Regions from separate parts of the Homo sapiens genome. Here region 2 is linked to region 1. Evidence: fine-mapped expression QTL. A gene starts in region 1. The other region holds a variant in brackets. All regions are shown on one strand. Distances are between the middles of the regions. Region 1 holds the start of ACSL1 (acyl-CoA synthetase long chain family member 1). Region 2 holds the start of MIR3945HG (MIR3945 host gene).

The links. PIP is the estimated chance that this variant, and not a neighbour inherited with it, causes the effect.
Region 2: its variant is fine-mapped to the expression of ACSL1 in whole blood (TOPMed, PIP 0.96).

What each region holds. Positions count from the first base shown.
Region 1 is chr4:184,821,165-184,830,366 of GRCh38, reverse strand. It overlaps ACSL1 (acyl-CoA synthetase long chain family member 1), which reads left to right and starts at 4,399. Exons shown (of 21, transcript NM_001995.5): 1 at 4,399-4,451. It overlaps LOC105377587 (a long non-coding RNA gene), which reads right to left and starts at 4,196. Exons shown (of 3, transcript XR_939564.4): 1 at 3,396-4,196. RefSeq lists enhancers at 3,221-3,500, 3,671-3,720, 3,327-3,830, 5,081-5,150 and a silencer at 3,951-4,910.
Region 2 is chr4:184,849,620-184,858,821 of GRCh38, reverse strand. It overlaps MIR3945HG (MIR3945 host gene), which reads left to right and starts at 3,170. Exons shown (of 3, transcript NR_132989.1): 1 at 3,170-3,353; 2 at 8,223-8,327. MIR3945 (microRNA 3945) reads left to right here and starts at 7,712; the gene lies at 7,712-7,809. RefSeq lists an enhancer at 8,193-8,262. The variant T/C (reference allele first, on the strand shown) is at 4,056.

The DNA.
Region 1 (9,202 bases):
AAAAGAACTCAGTTACTGATGCCAATCTTCCTTTAACCAGCCAATTACCGAGGTCTGTAATTAAAAGCTCATCGGCCATTATTAATTGATGTGGCTATACTTCAGATAGCCATGCTCAAAAGCAATAGGTGCAGAAGATTAATAATAATCACAGCTTTGTAGTTCCTAATCACAAGTGGGAACTTTTGAGACAAGGCCACTGTAAACCTGCTAATCAGCTTGACCCAGAAAGACTTCGATTCTTTTTTTCTTTTCTTTCTTTCTTTTTTTTTTTTGATGTGGTCTTGCTCTGTTGCCCATGCCAAAGTGCAATGGTGCAATCACGGTTCACTGCAGTCTCGACCTCCTGGGTTCAAGAGATCCTCCCACCTCAGCCTCCCATGTAGCTGGGACTATAGGCTACAGGTGCACACCACCATGCTGGGCTAAGTTTTGTATTTTTTGTAGAGACAGGATCTCGCCATGTTGCTCACACTGGTCTCAAACTCCTGGGCTGAAGTGATCCGCCGACCTTGGCCTCCCAACATGCTGGGATTACAGGCATGTGCCACTGCACCCGGCCCAGTTCTCTTTAGCTTCTCCAGGAGATTGATCAATCGGTGTTAGGCAGATGTCAATGTGGATTTAGCCAGAATTAGCCACAACATTTTAATCAGGCCAAAATGTAACAAGGGCAGGAGTGACCGAAAAAAGACTCAAATTTCCGCTAGGAAATTTGCACCACTACAATATCCAATTGGCTCTTATTCCCTTGGCTAGAGAGATGCTTGAAAAAAAAGACAGTAGAAAGGAGGGTTAAGACTGGTTTCTTAAAGAAGTAAGTACAAGGAAGTATAAGTTCATGCTGCCTGCTTCTAAAAGAATTCTATTCCTCATAACTACATAACATTATAATGCTACTGATTCATAAGGAGTTTAGATTAATTCTATTGGAGAGGACACCAGGATTATTAGTGTTTATTTTCATCTAGGATCTTTATTCTTTAATGCTGTTGGTCCCACAGACACATTTCAGTATACAAAAACACTGCAGTGTTAATAGCCAAAAGAAAAGCCATTATGATGTGAATAGTGGTCATTGTGATCACTGTGACACAATTTTTAAAAACTTTTTCTTAGAGACGGAGGGTCTCACTATGTTGCTCAGGCTGGTCTTGAATTCCCGGACTCAAGCAATCCTCCTGCATTTGCCTCCCAAAGTGCTGGGATTACAGGTGTGAGCCACCGCACCTGGCCCAATTTTTAAAAACAATCATGTCCTTCATTTAAAAAAAAAAAAAAAAAAAAGGCCGGGCGCGGTGGCTCACGCCTGTAATCCCAGCACTTTGGGAGGCCAAGGCGGGTGGATCACGAAGTCAGGAGATCGAGACCATCCTGGCTAACACAATGAAACCCCATCTCTACTAAAAATACAAAAAACTAGCCGGGTGTGGTGGTGGGTGCCTGTGGTCCCAGCTACTTGGGAGGCTGAGGCAGGAAAATGGCATGAACCCAGGAGGTAGAGATTGCAGTGAGCCGAGATCGCACCACTGCACCCCAGCCTGGGCAACAGAGTGAGACTCCGTCTCAAAAAAAGAGACTGGTTTCTTACCTAAGTCACAAACTCCCAACTATAGAGTCTGGAATCTTCATTTAATGAGAACGCCAAGGGCGTGGCTGTCAATCCTATGACACCTGTCTGAGGTAGGTATTATTCCTGATTTAAGGAGGATGCAATGAGGCTTGATGTGGATTCACCCACCCCAAAGCCTGTGTTCTTAACCACTATGCAATACTGCCTCCCATCAAAGTCTCTATCTCAAGTCCACAAGACAACCCCATACATTGTAAAACTTTTTGGAGTGATTAGATAAAAACTTTTTTGTTTTTTTTTAAGTGTGTGTGCTGAAAGAGACCTAAGAGATTATTTAGCCAAGCCCCCTTATAGCCTGAGGAGAAATCTAGGTTCTAAGGAATGAAGTTGCTTCCCAATGTCACCTAGAAGTTCCTGCCAGAAGGAGTGTGAACTCAGGTCTGATACTGGGTTGTGTGCCTTTCCCAGCCTTGAGTTGGAAATCACCTCATTAAGGGCTAGAGCCCAGGGAGAGGCACCCAGTTTAAAAGAAAAGTGTCTTGAGGAGAAGACGTAAGGTGAGACAGCCAGTGACGACCATCCACATGTTACGGGTTGAATTGTCACCCCCACATTCCCCAAGTTCATATGTTCAGGGGTTTGTTGTTGTTGTTGTTGTTGTTTTGAGACAGAGTCTTGCTCTGTCTCCCAGGCTGGAATGCAGTGGCGTGATCTTGGCTCATTGCAACCTCCACCTCCCTGGGTTCAAACAATTCTTCTGCCTCAGCCTCCCGAGTAGCTGGGACTACAGGTACGCACCACCATGCCCCGCTAATTTTTTTATTTTTAGTAGAGACAGGGTTTCACCATGTTGGCCAGGCTGGTCTTGAACTCCTGACCTCAGTTGATCTGCCTGCCTCGGCCTCCCAAAGTGCTGGGATTACAGGCATGAACCACCGTGCCTGGGCATTCAGGTATCTTAGAATGGGACCTTACTTGGACATTACCTCATGATTACAGAGGTCATCAAGTTAAAATGAGGCAATTCGGGTGGGCCCTAGTCCAGTATGACTGGTGTCCTTATAGAAAGAAGGGATTTGCACACACACACCACAGGGAAGATGGTGTGAGGAGACATAGGGAGAAGATGGGCATCTGCAAGTCAGAGTGGCCGGGCACACATGCTCTTTCATGGGCCTCGGAAGCAGCCAGCCCTCCCACGCCGTGATTTTGTACTTCTAGTCTCCAGAACCAGGACAGACCATACATTTCGGTTGTTGAAGCCACTTAGTGTGTGGTACTTCGTTCCAGCAGCCCTTGAAAACAATAGACCACAGAACTTGGGAGGTGCCTGCAGAGGTTCTGGGGCTGAGGGACCGGTTGGAGAAGAGGAAAAAGGAGAGGCAAAGATGACAAAATCACGGATGGGGAGGCGAGATCTGGACAGAAAAACCAGGGATTAGCCAAGCGGGAACCAGTGAAAACGAACGTGGAGTCCATTTTTTCTAGATCTGGAAGATGGAGATCTAAAAGGACTGAGCTGCTAGAGAGGTTGCTGGTGTGTGCGTTGTCCTCACCCCACTGCACCACTGCGCCCAGCACACTGTGGGAGACACCCAGGGAAAGTCCTTCAGTTATTTGTGGGAGTGAACTGCAGTGTGGCTGAGGCCTGGAGCGAACCACGGTCAGTTTCCCCTGCCTGCAGCCCAGGCATAGCCCTGCGTTGGTTGTGCCCACACTCTGGGGGCAGCCTGAGTGCCAAGTGTGGTACTGCTCTCACTAGCATTTAACCTCTGTGCCCCAGCTTCCTCTTCTGTGAAAGGACAGTAATGACAGTACCTACCTCACTGGGTTATGAAGATTAAATAGAATAATGTGTACGCAGTGTTTGTAGCAATGCCTGGCATCAAGCACTGGGTAAACAGTATCTATTATTATCAAAGGCCTTTACGACAACAATCATTCTTCAAACGGCCCTCCAGCGAACGCTGGGCGCAAACTCCACGGTAACGGGGACCAATGTTGTTAGAGGTTGAGGTTCCTGGTAGGTCCCAGGTGCTAAAAGGAAGAGCAGCCTTTGGGATGTGAGCCCGAAAACCATCGTGTTGGCTTCTGAAGCCCCAAGATGGGCATGGCAGGGACGCGGAAGCCCTCAGAACCGCGGAAGCCCTCAGAACCGCACAGCAGGTGGCCGCCGTGGTGCAGCGCGCAGTCGGCCCTCAGCTCCCCTGCACCGGCGCGAGCTGCGGGCGCTGCCCACGTCAGGCTCTGCAGACACCAGACAGAAAAGGTCTTCCGGCCAGGGAGCGTGGGGGAAACCCTGTGGGGCCGCGCCCGTCAGTGTCAAGGAAAAACGGAGAGGAAGGCCCTTGCCTCCAGGGCCCTCGCAGCAGAATTCTGCCCGGCCTGCCAGGAGGCCAGCGGGGCACGGGCTGAGGGTGCAGGATCCGGAGGGCGCCGCCCGCCCCTCGGGCATCGCGGGGCCCAGGGTCCGCGGGGCCTCTGAGCTGAGGCGGTCCAATGTACCCTTTGTCCTTCCTCAGATTCATTATGAAATCCGAGGCAGTCTGGGCGACTCCAGCGGCGTTCGCCCGCCGCAGCCTCTCGACCGCCGGCCACCCGCCAGCCACGCGCGCCCAGACAGGAGGGCGGCCGGGCGCTCGGCGGGGCGGGGCCTGCCGGGGGCGGGGCCTGCGGGCGGGGCGGGGCCGCGGGAGGGCGGGGCCGGCGCGGCGAGCGCACCAGCAGCATCCTGGCTCAGCCGCGGCGGTGGCGGGGGCGCAACCAGCGGGCCGAGGCGGCGGCGCCAGCGGCGCCTTAAATAGCATCCAGAGCCGGCGCGGGGCAGGGAGTGGGCTGCAGTGACAGCCGGCGGCGGAGCGGCCGGTCCACGGAGGAGGTGAGTGCGCCCGCCGTGCGGAGCCGCGCCTGCTCCCGCGGCGGTGCCCGGGCCCCGGCCGAGGCGCCGGCTGACGTTGCCCTTCAGGGCCGAGCCCGGAGCAGCGGCCGCCGCGGAGGCGCGTGAGCCACCCCAGGCTCGTGGGGCCGCGCCGCCTTTCCGGCCTCCTGCCCGCGGCCCCGCTTCCCTCGGCAGCCGGAGGCCTCCGGGGTGCCCGTGCTGCCGCAGCTTCCTGTGTCTGAGTCGCGGGCGGCGCGGGCGCGGGGCTGGTGCGCGGCCGGGGATGCGCGCGGGACCGACCCTTGTGTGTGCGGCGGCGGGGACCGGCCCGGCGAAGCAGCCGGAGGCCGCGCTTCGGCTGGGAGGAGGTGGCCCAGCTGGGCCGCTGACGTTGCCCTCGTCCGCGGCCCCCGCCTGCCCAGAGGCCGGGCTCGCGGGCGTTCGGACCGCGCGTGGGGCGAGACTGCACTCGCGCCCGCTGAGATGCCGGCCCCACGCAGCGCGGCGGCACGAGGCCCACAGGCAGCTCAGAGGCCGCTGCCAGAGGCAGACATTCTCTCGGTGACTCCAGAGGAGTGCCCGTGGCCCTTGCACTTGGCCGTGGAGTCATTGATCTAAGGAGTGCTGGCATTTTTTGAAATTGAGAAGCAAAGATGATGTCTGTCACCTGGCAGCGTAGACGGAGAGTGGCGGTAGATGACTTGAATGGACACGTGGATTCGAGTCTGGGGACAGGCGTTCCCCCAGTCGGTGCGTTGTGAGAGTGTGGAAACCCCTTCCCCACTCAGTCCAATTTCAAGGTTATGGAGCATAATTAAGAGTGACCATTCTAAAAGCGTTCTCTAGTGCCCTGGCTAAGACTTTTAAGCTTCTTGGTGCAGGAGTGTCTAAAGTCCCGCGACTCTCACTGCCCTGTCTTTTATTTTCTTGACCTTTGATTAGCGTTGAGAGAAACTGGTTAAATCTTGCAGTTTCTGCCACCCATTTCACAACTTAACCTGTGATTGTCCCAAAGAAAACAATTATTGGCTTCTTGCTAGCAAAAAAATCAAAGGCTTCCGGTTGATTGTTTCTTTCTTTTTTTTCTTTTTTCAAGTGGACGTGGAAGGTTAGGCTGGCTAAAACTTAAAGTTTGAGTTGTAGGTCTGTGCTGGGTAGGCTTGAGAAGATGGAGCTTTTTAAGGAACCATTGCTCGCCATCAGATTGGAGCCAGACAGTGCAGTGTGATATAGTGGAAAAGGACCAGGTCTTGGGAGACTTACTTTCTTGTTCTGACTCAACTCGGAAAACACCTCCCTAGTCTGAGGCCCCCCTCCTTATATTTGTGAACAAACTGCATTAGACTAAAATCTTTCACGAGTCCAAATTCTGCGACTAGAAAAATAAACTTGTTAGCCGCACACCTTATACCTCTCCCCTTTAAAACAGACATATTAAAGACTTCTGTTTTCTGAATTTACTGTAAACAGAATACTTAAAAAAAAATTACCCAGACAGGCGTGGTGGCTCACTGTAATCCCAGCACTTTGGGAGACCGAGGCGGGCAGATCATTTGAGGTCAGGAGTTCGAGACCAGCCTGACCAACATGGAGAAACCCTATCTCTACTAAAAATACAAATAATTAGCCAGGCGTGGTGGCATGCATCTCTAGTCCCAGCTACTCGAGAGGCTGAGCCAGGAGAATCGCTTGAACTCAGGAGGCAGAAGTTGTGATGAGCTGAGATCCCGCCACTGCACTCCAGACTGGGCAACAGAGCAGGACTCTGTAAAAAACAAAACAAAACAAAAAATTACCCTTCCCCACAATTATAAGCATTTTGGCATATTTCCTTCCTGTCTCTGTTGTTCCTATTTTGGCAGTATTTTTATTGTTATCGCAGGCAGCCTGACTGAAAAGAAATCTGGGCTTCTAAGTTTTTGGTATTTAGGAGGTAGATACAAGTGACCCATGCATGTAGGGTTAGGTATCTATTTATACCATGCAGGTAGAGTTTTCATAGCCACCTCTACTTTTGGGTGAAGTTTAGGCTAACTGAAAGTGTACCAGCATGCATGGTGTATGCAGAAAAATGAACGTAATTCAGATTATGTGATAGTTTTCTCTTGTTGCCATTATATATAACCCAGGGCTTACCACAAACTGAAATTTCTTATGCATTGACATTTAGCATTTGATGTAAAATGACTATCTCAGAGTTGCTGCCACAAACACTGGTAAAACTGTCCCTACTTTCTAGCATGCTTAATGTCTAGGTCTTGCTACATCTTTTTTGATGTAACTGTTTTGTGGAAAATGGTTGTGTGTTTGGGGAGGCTTTTGAGAAAAGATAAGGTTGTCTTGTCATTATAACTGGGTATTTCTCCTCTCTCCCTTCCAGTTTCACTTGTCTGGAAATAGCAAGACTATAGGAGTAGTAATTTCTAGATATTTATAGTCAGTAACCTTAGAGGAATGTTTAGTTTTTAAGATCAATTGAATTTATTGTGTAAGTTTGCCATTTAAAACAGGTGCCCATTTGTGTTTACTGTCTCTTGTAACCAAACTCTGTTCAATTAGAATCCATTAGTAATGTTTTGTGGAGAGTCTTGTTTGGATGATGCAGTGCATGAGGCTCCTGTACTACAAAATAGAAAAGAAGTTCCTCTAAGGCAGCTCAAAGCTGTTGATATCCTGAAGCCTTTTTAGGCCTCCCTCTCTGACAGGCGGTGATCTGACAGGAGGTAGATAAAGGTGCCGGAGTTTTTAGTGAAGGTTGGCAGTCCAACTTGGTAGTCAGACAAACACATGATGGTCAAAAGTGCCTTTGACACTGGGGCCTGGAGAAGAATTCTCAGTGGCCAGAGCTGATCTGAAGCTGCAGGCAGTTGAGTTTGAGTTTCAACATGTTGGTACTTCAAGGGGCTTCTGAAAAGTTTTAAAGGAGCACAAGCCCTGAAGGAGTAGCTGAACTTAGTGAACTGGAGAAGGCAGGGGCAGTTTTACCAGGGTTTGTGGCAGCGACTCTAAGATTGTCATTTTACATCAAATGCTGAATGTCAATGCATAAGAAATTTCAGTTTGTGGCAAGCCTTGGGTTGTATATAATGGCAAGAAGAGAAAACTATCACATAATCTGAGTTATGTTCATTTTCTACATCATGACATTTTCACTTTCTTTTTTTTTTCTTTTTTCCCAGATAAGGTCTCACTCTGTCGCCCAGGTTGGAGTACAGGCATGATCATGGCTCGTTGCAGCCTCTCCACCTCCCTGGGCTCAGTTGATCCTCCCACTTCAGCCTCTCCAGTAGCTTAGACTACAGGCGCACATCACTATGCCCAGCTAATTTTTGTATTTTTTTCGTAGTGAAGCGGTTTTGCCATATTGCCCAGTTGTCTCGAACTCCTGGGCTCAAGCGATTTGCCCTCCTTGGCCTCCCCAAAGTGCTAGGATTACAGGCGTGAGCCACTGCACCCAGCCCACTTTCATGTTCTTGACTGTGTTAGAAACAACACAGTATTGATTCACTTATGACCTTTGAGGAATCAAGAGGGGCGGGTGAAATATTGGAGACTCCTTGAAGTGTGGCTGGCTTGGAGGGTGTCACCCTTGGACAAAAACTTAAGTGGAGGTGAGTAAGGGCCCTGCTCCCCTGTGCTGCCTGCCTTAGAAGGATGTGATCATCTGGAGGCAAATAGCTTGTTGCTTGAGGCCAGGAGTTCAAGACCAGCCTGGGCAACAGAGCAAGACCCCATCTCTAGAAAAAAAAAAGTAAAAACAATAAAATAAAATCTCAAAACTGGTGGTTCCATATAGGTGCCTGGGCTGATTCTCTTTATGAATTATTTGCTGGTCTTCAAGTTTAAATAAAATTCTGAAAGCTGTCTAATATCTAAAAACCACTTGCCACAGAAAAGCTGTATTTGTTTTTCATATTTTAAGAGTCATACATACTTACTGGAGAAAATTTGGGAAATAGGAAAAATGAAGCTCTTCCAGAGATTAAATACTATTAACATTTTGTTATATTTCCTTCCAGTCTTTTTTCCCTATACAATAAACAAATTTTAAGCATACATTGTTAATTAAAGATTACAATTTTGACAATTTAACTTTATCACCTAAGTTATATTGTGGGCTTTTTTACACGTTGTTACATATTCTTCAAAAAATAAGTTCTGAAGATGACTGCATTATTTGCTGTATGGGCCATAATTTAGTTACTTCTCCCCATTTGTTGGATATTTTTCAGAACAGTTTACCAACCTTTGTTATATGTTTAAATACGTCTTTAAAAAATAAAAAATGTTCTGCTTTAAAACTCTTGAAATTAACAATAATTTGAAAAGTGTTTTTACTAATGAATAGGTTTAATGGACTTTTGGGTTCATGTATTCTAGTCAAAAGCAGTTGAAATAGGGATTTCATGGTTTGGAAAGAGAAATGGAAAGAAGTTAGGGCATCAGAGGAGGAAACGGGGCCTGCCTGTAGACCATTTCCTCATTCTGGAGGGGACTTCTGATAAATGTAGGCTCTATCCATTAGCACAGCTTTGGCTGCTATAGAAATGGGCACTTTCCCCTTAGGTTTGTTGTGGGAGAAATGTCCATATAAGAAGGACTGAAACACTCTGAATACTATTTATTCCTTTATTAAGCAGAGTCATGAGAAAGTGCTTCCGGAGCTAGTTTCTCCTTCAGGGTCCAGGTGTCTGCCACAAAGCAGGGCTGTGGTAGCTGACCGAGGTGGTAGCCACAGCCTGGACACGGCC
Region 2 (9,202 bases), 28 kb before region 1:
CCAGGTCTTCAGAGGACCAGCTGGGACCTTTGGGACCCCGAGGTGACGATGTGGAGTTGTGATCCCAGGTCTTCAGAGGACCAGCTGGGACCTTTGGGACCCCGAGGTGACGATGTGGAGTTGTGATCCCGGGTCTTCAGAGGACCAGCTGGGACCTTTGGGACCCCGAGGTGACGATGTGGAGTTGTGATCCCGGGTCTTCAGAGGACCAGCTGGGACCTTTGGGACCCCGAGGTGACGATGTGGAGTTGTGATCCCGGGTCTTCAGAGGACCAGCTGGGACCTTTGGGACCCCGAGGTGACGATGTGGAGTTGTGATCCCGGGTCTTCAGAGGATCAGCTGGGACCTTTGGGACCCCGAGGTGACGATGTGGAGTTGTGATCCCGGGTCTTCAGAGGACCAGCTGGGACCTTTGGGACCCCGAGGTGACGATGTGGAGTTGTGATCCCGGGTCTTCAGAGGACCAGCTGGGACCTTTGGGACCCCGAGGTGACGATGTGGAGTTGTGATCCCGGGTCTTCAGAGGACCAGCTGGGACCTTTGGGACCCCGAGGTGACGATGTGGAGTTGTGATCCCGGGTCTTCAGAGGACCAGCTGGGACCTTTGGGAGATGCAGAGCTGCTGCGGCGCTCTTCACATGCACTTGATCTGCTGTGTCCACTAAATCTACCCCACTTCTAACACCCCAGTCCTGGACTCCGTGGGTGCAAAACGTGAGTCTCTGCACCCCTCTTCACATCCCTGGGGGGCTTGAGAATAAGCCAGCAGCCCTGAGCTGGGCTCCTTGGCCTGGCCATGACTGCCAATGAGGGGCCTTGAGTCTGTGTCCTCAGCCCCCAGCCTGTCCCCATTTTGGGGACTTGAACAGACCCACAGTGTCAGTTCCTCCCATAAAAAGATTTCAGGGGACAGCAGCACTTCCTCTTGGCCCCCAGGCACTTGAAGGCCGCCTGCACCCCCCATTCCTAGGCCTTGCCAGCCTGAGGGCAAGCTCCTTACATGACCTGCAGCTTCAGAAACTAGGCCCTCCTCCTTACTTCCCATCACCCATTTTGTCAAAGAACCTAGAATATTTTGTTATCCGAGAAGCCTGGCTTTCGACAAACCGTAGGATTGCTAGTATCTCTTTATGGAGTGGACTTGAACTGTTTATTGCAACTGTGACATGTGGCAAATCATTTTACTGTTCTGAGGCTTTACTTCCTTCTAGTTAGAATGAGCATTAGGCCGGGCATGGTGGCTCACGCTTGTAATCCCAGCACTTTGGGAGGCCAAGGCAGGTGAATCACGAGGTCAGGAGTTCAAGACCAGACTGGCCAAGATGGTGAAACCCCGTCTCTACTAAAAATTCAAAAATTAGCTGGATGTGGTGGCGGGCACCTGTAATCCCAGCTACTCGGGAGGCTGAGGCAGAGAATTGCTTGAACCCGGGAGGCAGAGGTTGCAGTGAGACAAGATCGTGCCACTGCACTCCAGCCTGGGTGACAGAGCAAGACTCCATCTCAAAAAAAAAAGAAAAAAAAAAGAGCATTAAATATATGACATCTTTAAAACTGTGTGGATTTAGAACTGAGGTATCTTCTTTGTTACCTGAGGAGGGAAACATGCTTATGGGGCTAATGTCATTTTAATTTTGGGGTAGGTCTGTCTGTCTTCTGTGGGGTGGGGGAGAGTGAAAATTTTCTCTGCTGTAGGTGAAGACCTCTAGGCTTTATTTTCAACTCATATGCCTCATGCTATTGTTCGAGAATCATCTTTTCTATTCATATAAGCTATATCATACTGATCTTTTTTTTAACCTTATTTATTATTTTTTATTTTTGAGATGGAGTCTCCCCCTGTCACCCAGGCTGGAGTATAGTGGTGCAATCTCAGTTCACTGCAACCTCTGCCTCCAGGGTTCAAGTGATTCCCCTGCCTCAGCCTCCAGAGTAGCTGGGATTACAGGCGCGCACCACCACACCTGGATAATTTTTGTATTTTTAGTAGAGACGGGGTTTCACCATGTTGTCCAGGCTGGTCTCGAACTCGTGACCTCGGGTGATCCGCCCGACTCAGCCTCCCAAAGTGCTGGGATTACAGACATGAGCCACTGCACTCAGCCCCCCTTTTTTTTTTTAACTTTAAAATCCACTTGTGACACTTTTGTAAAATACCATCAACCTTGTGTATTAAGCTACTGTTGTGACAGCCATGATAATTTCCCTCTGAAAATGGTTTGGAGACATGAAATAATAAAAATAACCTTTAAAATGCATTATCACTCTGATTCTATTAGGAAAAACGGAAGTCACTGGATTTAAACTATGTCAATGCCCTGTACTTTCTGTCTGTCAGTAGGTGCTGTAACTGTTGGCTAAATGATTATTTTTCATGCTTCCTTTCTCATTTCTGCTTTTTTAGATATTTAAAATGTCCTTGTTTCTTGGTGAGCAGAATTATTTCCTACCTCATGACCATGAGTCATGACCTTATACTCTTCTTTCAGTACAGGAGAAAGCTTCATTAATTTACTAATGCATTCATTCCACAAGTAAACTTCTGCAATCCTCGTTTATTCATATACTTTGACAAAAACAAAGAGACCCACAAGCTTTTTGAGTCTTCACAACCCAAAACATGTATTTGAAACTGAAAATTCAATCATTCCATGTTTATAGGCATATTGCTTGATAGAAACATATAAATCATTACCTGAATTTTTTTTTTTTTTTTTTTTTTTTGAGACGGAGTCTCACTCTGTCACCCAGGCTGGAGTGCAGTGGTGCAGTCTCAGCTCACTACAACCTCTGCCTCCCGGGTTCAAGCTATTCTCCTGCCTCAGTCTCCTGAGTAGCTGGGATTACAGGCGCCCACCACCACACCCGGCTAATTTTTTTTTTTTAATTTTTAATCGAGACGGAGTTTTACCATGTTGGCCACGCTGGTCTCGAACTCCTGACCTCTGGTGATCCACCCGCCTTGGCCTCCCAAAGTGCTGGGATTACAGGCATGAGCCACCGCGCCCAGCCTGGATTTTTTTTAATCCAACCCAGTTCCATATTTTCCTCTAGAGAGACTGACTCACCAAGCCTATCTCCTTTTCCTGGAAACACAATCAAATTAACTTTCCAGTCACCGCTGTGTCTAGGTGTGGCCATATGAGTAGTTCTCACCAGTGGAATGTAGTGAAAACGAGATGCTGTCTCTTAGGGACTAAGGAAGCTATCTTTCCTCTTCCGACATTTGCTGACTGGTCGATGCTAGATGATCTTGAGACCCTGTGCTGAGGACTGGAGAACTACAGGAAAGGAGCAGTATCTCTGAATTATCGTGTGGAAGGTCACTTGTCTAGCCCCTGATGACTGTGAGGTAAGTCGTTAGGGATCTGGGGTTGTCTGATACAGCAGTTAGCAGGTCCTGACTGACATATCCCTCTTATTCTTTAAGTTGAACAAATTAGAGACTGGAGTGTTTTGGGTAGCCTTGCTATATGGCATGGTCGAAGACGGTGCTTCGCAGGTGATTTACAACCCTCCTACCATTTACTCTGTCTTCATTTCAAGCAGTATAACCTATAATTTCCTAATCTTCAGCAGAATAGGAAAAGGGGCTCAAAGCCACAAACACACACGCTTCCTTTCAATGTACCTTTGTTGCTCAGCCACAGTGGCGAGTTCACGCGCCTGGCAAGACCTCTCCCTATTTGGGCATTTTGTGAATACAGAAGAATGGGCGCCCTGGTGTGACCCAACATCAGAATCCAAAACATGGCATCTTTACCTAGCCCTTTTCGCTTCTTTTAGATCATTCAATAAACATAATCTGTTTTCTTTCAAAATAACATGGTTATCTAATTCCCTTCATTAGCAGCTAGCAAAAGAGGCCCTGGGCTTCCCGTGAGCTAATTCACTGGGTCCCTGAGGTCGTTGCGGGCTTTCCCTCTCACTCTTGCAACAGACACAATCTCACTTCTTTAATGTAAAGTATGGTTTTTCTGTCGAAATGTGCTTCCTGTTTTCTTTATCGTAACTTACAGGCATGATTGCCTGGGTCTTCTCTCATTATTCCCAG[T/C]CCACTGCCTCTTCATATTTAGTGGTACTTCTGTCTTACTGGTCCCTGGAAATTTATCTCAGATCATTTCCTTTTGGGTCTATCTCTTCTTTAAGAGAAATAATTTTAAAGTCAAAGCTCCATAATACAGAGATCTGTTCTCTTTCCCACCATCTGTTTTCTGAACCTCCCCTCCTGGTTCAAGCCTCTGTAGGATAATTTGAACACAAACCATTGACTGCCAACTGAAATCGAACAAGATAATGTCCAATTTGCCCTTTTTTCTCTCTGATTTGTCCCAATGTTTACATTTCTCCATCAATCAATGAACAAATCACTTTGGTACAGTGTGCCAGTAGCTTTGAGAGGAGCACAGAAGCAATACAAGCAAGCTCACCAGTAACTTATGAGGCTCGCTTACCCAAAGCCATTCAAGAATAAGACAGTAGATAACACCAGCCACCTGGTGTATATAGAAAGTGCATTCAGAGGGCCGGGCACGGTGGCTCACGCCTGTAATCCCAGCACTTTGGGAGGCCGAGGCGGGCAGATCACGAGGTCAGGAGATCGAGACCATCCTGGCTAACACGGTGAAACCCCGTCTCTACTAAAAATGCAAAAAATTAGCTGGGCGTGGTGGTGGGCGCCTGTAGTCCCAGCTACTCGGGAGGCTGAGGCAGGAGAATGGCATGAACCCGGGAGGCGGAGCTTGCAGTGAGCCGAGATCGCGCCACTGCACTCCAGGCTGGGCGACAGAGCGAGACTCTGTCTCAAAAAAAAAAAAAAGAAAAAAGAAAGTGCATTCAGAATTGGGGAGGGGAGAGATCAATGTGTGTTAGAGCCAAGGAAACATTTAGTAAAGATGGAATTTAGCCCTTAAGGACTGTCAGGCCAGAGCAATAGGAAGTACAAACATTTCATATGTAGAGAATAACACGAACAAGGCACAAGAGCAGAAATATGAGTAACAGCCTCAGTGGGTCCTATTCGTTATGCACCTATCATGTCCCTTGCACTATGCCGGGCCCTTTGCACTCATTATATACGATGCTCACAGCAATCCTGAGATTGTGAGGCGGGTATTTTACAAATACAAGAAGTCAGTTTTAGAGAAGTACTAAATGGCAGACTCAGGATTCATGTCTGCACTTCATTCACTGCGTAGGAAGGTGAGGGTGGTTAAGGAGGTGCCACTCTGGGAGCAGAAGGCAGTCACTGGAGCAGATCAGTGGAGCTACGTTACGGAGATCCGGGATGGTCCGTGAGGATGCTGGGCCTCACCTGGTAAGCAACAGGGACTGCTGTAGAAGCTTTAGCACAGAAATAGGATGACAAACTTTAGTCAGACAAAATCTGAGTTCAAGGCCGTGTTCTGTGTTAGCTGTGTGACTGGGAACCACCGTTAAACCTGCTGAGATTGTTTCCTCCTCTATAAAATGTGTTCAACAGCAATATCAATGTATAACATTGAAAGGCTTAAATGAGATTTTACTAAAGCACCTGAGATATAGTTAGCATTTACTATATGATAGAGGTTGTTGCTGTTACTACTGCTACTACCACCACCACTGCTACCACAACAGCACTTAAGGAAGGATGATAATCTGGAGAAAAACAGCTAACAGATATTTCGTGAAGACATGAAATGAGATGGCATAGATAGATAGATAGATAGATAGATAGATAGATAGAGTTATATGCCATTTGGTTATATATACATAATCAAAACTTGACTCTGGGAGTATAGATGAATAAAGGTGAATTAGAATCTAGTATAAAGAGAGAAGATCGGAGAATGAGGATTGACACATCTGGGGCACCCACAGTTGGGGAGCGGGACACGGGAGAGAGTCAGTGACAGACACAAGGAAAATGCAGAGGAAGAGGTAAGATGGTCACGTAGACCACAGCAGTCAGGTAACAGAAGAGGTTCCTCAAAAGGCTAGGGAGGTCTACTGTGCCCAGGGCTGCTGTGGGGAGAAAAGATTGAGGACTAGGAAAAGGCTTGTGCAGTTGGGGCAGTGACAACATGGAACACAGACTGGGAGGAACCAGGTGGGAATAAAAGACACTGGCCACAGCCACAGGCACTGCTCATTCATCTGAGGTGTAAGTATAGAGAGAGAACTCGGCTGTGGCTTGGAAGTAACAGCAAGACAAAGAAGGAGGTTATTTTTAGTTCTTGGAGAGGCCAATACCGCTGGTAATCATGAGCGAGCTTCAGTTCATCTCTACCCCTTACTATGGTGCAACTCCTCATGGACTGGTTCCTGAGCCTGCACCCTCTTAGGGTGCAGGTTAGTCCTGCACTTAGTCTGGCTTCTGTTAACTTGTTTTCTCTTTCAGGTCTCACTGTTGCTAACCCCACTCATCAACTTGATCTGTTTGCCCCCAATCCCACCATTTTGCATGACATTATGGATCCTCTGATCTTTAACAAATCCATCCAAGATTGTCTGTTTCTTCTTCTAAGGTGTCACCAGGAATGAAGATTCTTTCACCTAATTTATTTTTTTCTGGTTTCACACGTGTCTGAAAAAATAATAGCAATTATTATTATTATCATTGTAGGATTCATTTCACTCCTCTCAAACACATTCAAAAAGTCTCTTCATCTCTTCCATCATGGTGATGCTCAACTGTTACCCAACTATCCAACTGTATCTTGGAGTTTTGTAATTCCATCATGAGTTGTACTCAACTGTTATCCAACATATCTTGGAGCATGCACCAGGATGCTCCCTGACACAGCTCACTTTGCAAGTAATTCTTAGACACACACTTTCTCCACCAGGCCTGTCTAGTTGAAGTTCTCTATATCCCTGCCCCCCTCCCCACCCTGGTTAAGCATAGGACTTCCATGGTTACATCCCATTTATTCCTTTCCCAAACATGCTTAATGCATTTCATCTCCAGTTACAAACATCGTCTGCTAATGAACAATGTAGATAGTTACCATGTTGTATAAATAGTTACTTATTTCCCTTCGTTGTTGGTTTTATCCAATAAACTAGCCCGATCAGCTTCATTTTATATCACCTTATCTCATACAGATGAGAAACTGTATGTATTTCAGCCTGTCTAAACTGGAGGTAACGCTAGACTGCAGTATCCCTGCACAGTGTCGTATTAGAAATGGCACCCTATAAATTTTTTATGAGTTAATAATGATTGTGATCCCATTCCTATTTTCTACAAGTTCTTCTGTTATGGTGGCAATTAAATAGCCTCACCTTCCTTTCACTTTCTGCAAACCTGCTGCAAGTCATCATTAACTTTCTTAATTGGTAGCGGCTCTGAATTCCAGTCTTTCAGAGTTCCCGTAAACAGCATCTTTCTTAATACTTATGTCATAATGTTTTTCTCCTTTCCTTGCATTTCATTCTGCCTTTGGGCAGGAACAGCATCATTTCCTGCTCTTCTGGGGTTTCAACACTGACTGCAAAGCACCCTTGCTCATCTCACTGGGAGATTCTGCAGCCAAGCAGAGATTTGCATAAAGCCCATCCACCCTTCACCAGCACAGGATACGCAGACTTAACTGCAGGGACTCTTGGTGACTAGTCTCTGTGGTGCACACTCTCCACCCTACCACCAAAAAGGTCCCCAGTACCCTAAAAGGAACTATGTACTCAAATATCACCTCAAATAAGATGAGGTCTTTCTGAGAGAAAAGAGATGTTGATGCACGTGACGGGGAGGGCATAGGAGAGGGTTGATATAAAATGCAATTACAGCCTCTTATGCTTTCCAAAGTGGGGGATGATTCAATGATTCCTGACTGGTCCACAGCCATATATCAATTGAGGTTATAATACTAATTTGAATTGCAAATCTCTGAAAAGAAGGGGACAAGCTAAGGAGATAAAATTTAACAGGGTGAGTCCTGAATTTAGATTTAAACAAACTCCACAAGTATAAGAAGGCAGAGGCTGGCAACAGTACTTGCTGTCATGTTTAGTCGGCCACTGGTCAGTCTGAGACAGCAGTGGGTGTGATCGTGTAGCAGCTATGGAAAGCTTATGCTGCATTTAATAATAATAGTCATACTTTAAAGCATGTTTCAGTTATGAATTCATTCTGACCAGAAAAGTAACTTGCACTAGCTTAACAGTCAAATAGCAAGAAGCATAGAGAAGTGGCCGCTTGCTGTGCTTCAGCAGCTCAACAGTGTCTCTATTCTCTTAGCCTCTTCCTCCTGCTTGCCACCTCTCAGTCACAAGACGGCTGCTGCGACTCAGGCTCATGTCCCAATTCAAGGCAGCAAGAAGGCCATGGAGCGGCACCTGCCAGGTATGTCCCTTTCCCAGGCATCCCCAGCAGATTTCTCACTGTCTGAAACTGCATCCCACGGCGTTCTTAGGTGCGAGGCTGGTCTGGAGAGTCAATGCTTGGGTTTTCCAATACCTGCATGGGACATGGGCAAGATGGAAGGGAGTTGGGTTTAGGAAACCAGTAGTGCCAGCCCTTTACTCGTATCATATCTGATCCCCACAGCAACCCTGAGGAGTAGCTATTTATCATCCTTATTGAGCAAATGAAGAAAATCAGAACCAGCAACATCAAGAAAAAATGAGGAAAGACATACATTAGTAAATAATAAAGCCAGGGTTCCAATTCAGATCAGGTTGAATCCAAAATTCCTCTCCCTGCCATTATAACGCATCACAGTGTTCAGGTCATGTGGGTCTGGGAAGGATGAATCATATTCAACTATCCCACCACGTTTTTGGCCATTTTTTAAAAACTAAAGTATAACACACATCTTGTTATGTTAACACTGACATCTTGAGAATATTAAATCTTCCAATCCATGAACATAGACTGTTTTTACATTTATTTGGTTTCTTCTTTGATTTATTTCAACAAAGCTTTGTAGTTTTCACAGTATAAGTTTTGTACATCTTTGTTAAATTTACTTCTAAGTATTTTAGAATTTTTATCTTAAGTGAAATTACTTTCTTAATTTCATTTTTGGTTTGCTCATTGCTACTGTATACAATACAATTAATATTTGTACATTGCTCTTAATCCTGTAACCTTGCCGGACCTTATTCATTTTAAGTTTGTTCTTTGAATATGTGAAACATTAAAAAGATTTTAAAAGCCAGAACTATACACAAAGGTATTGTCCTTGTAATTTTATATCTGATTGGAAGAATTCTCCA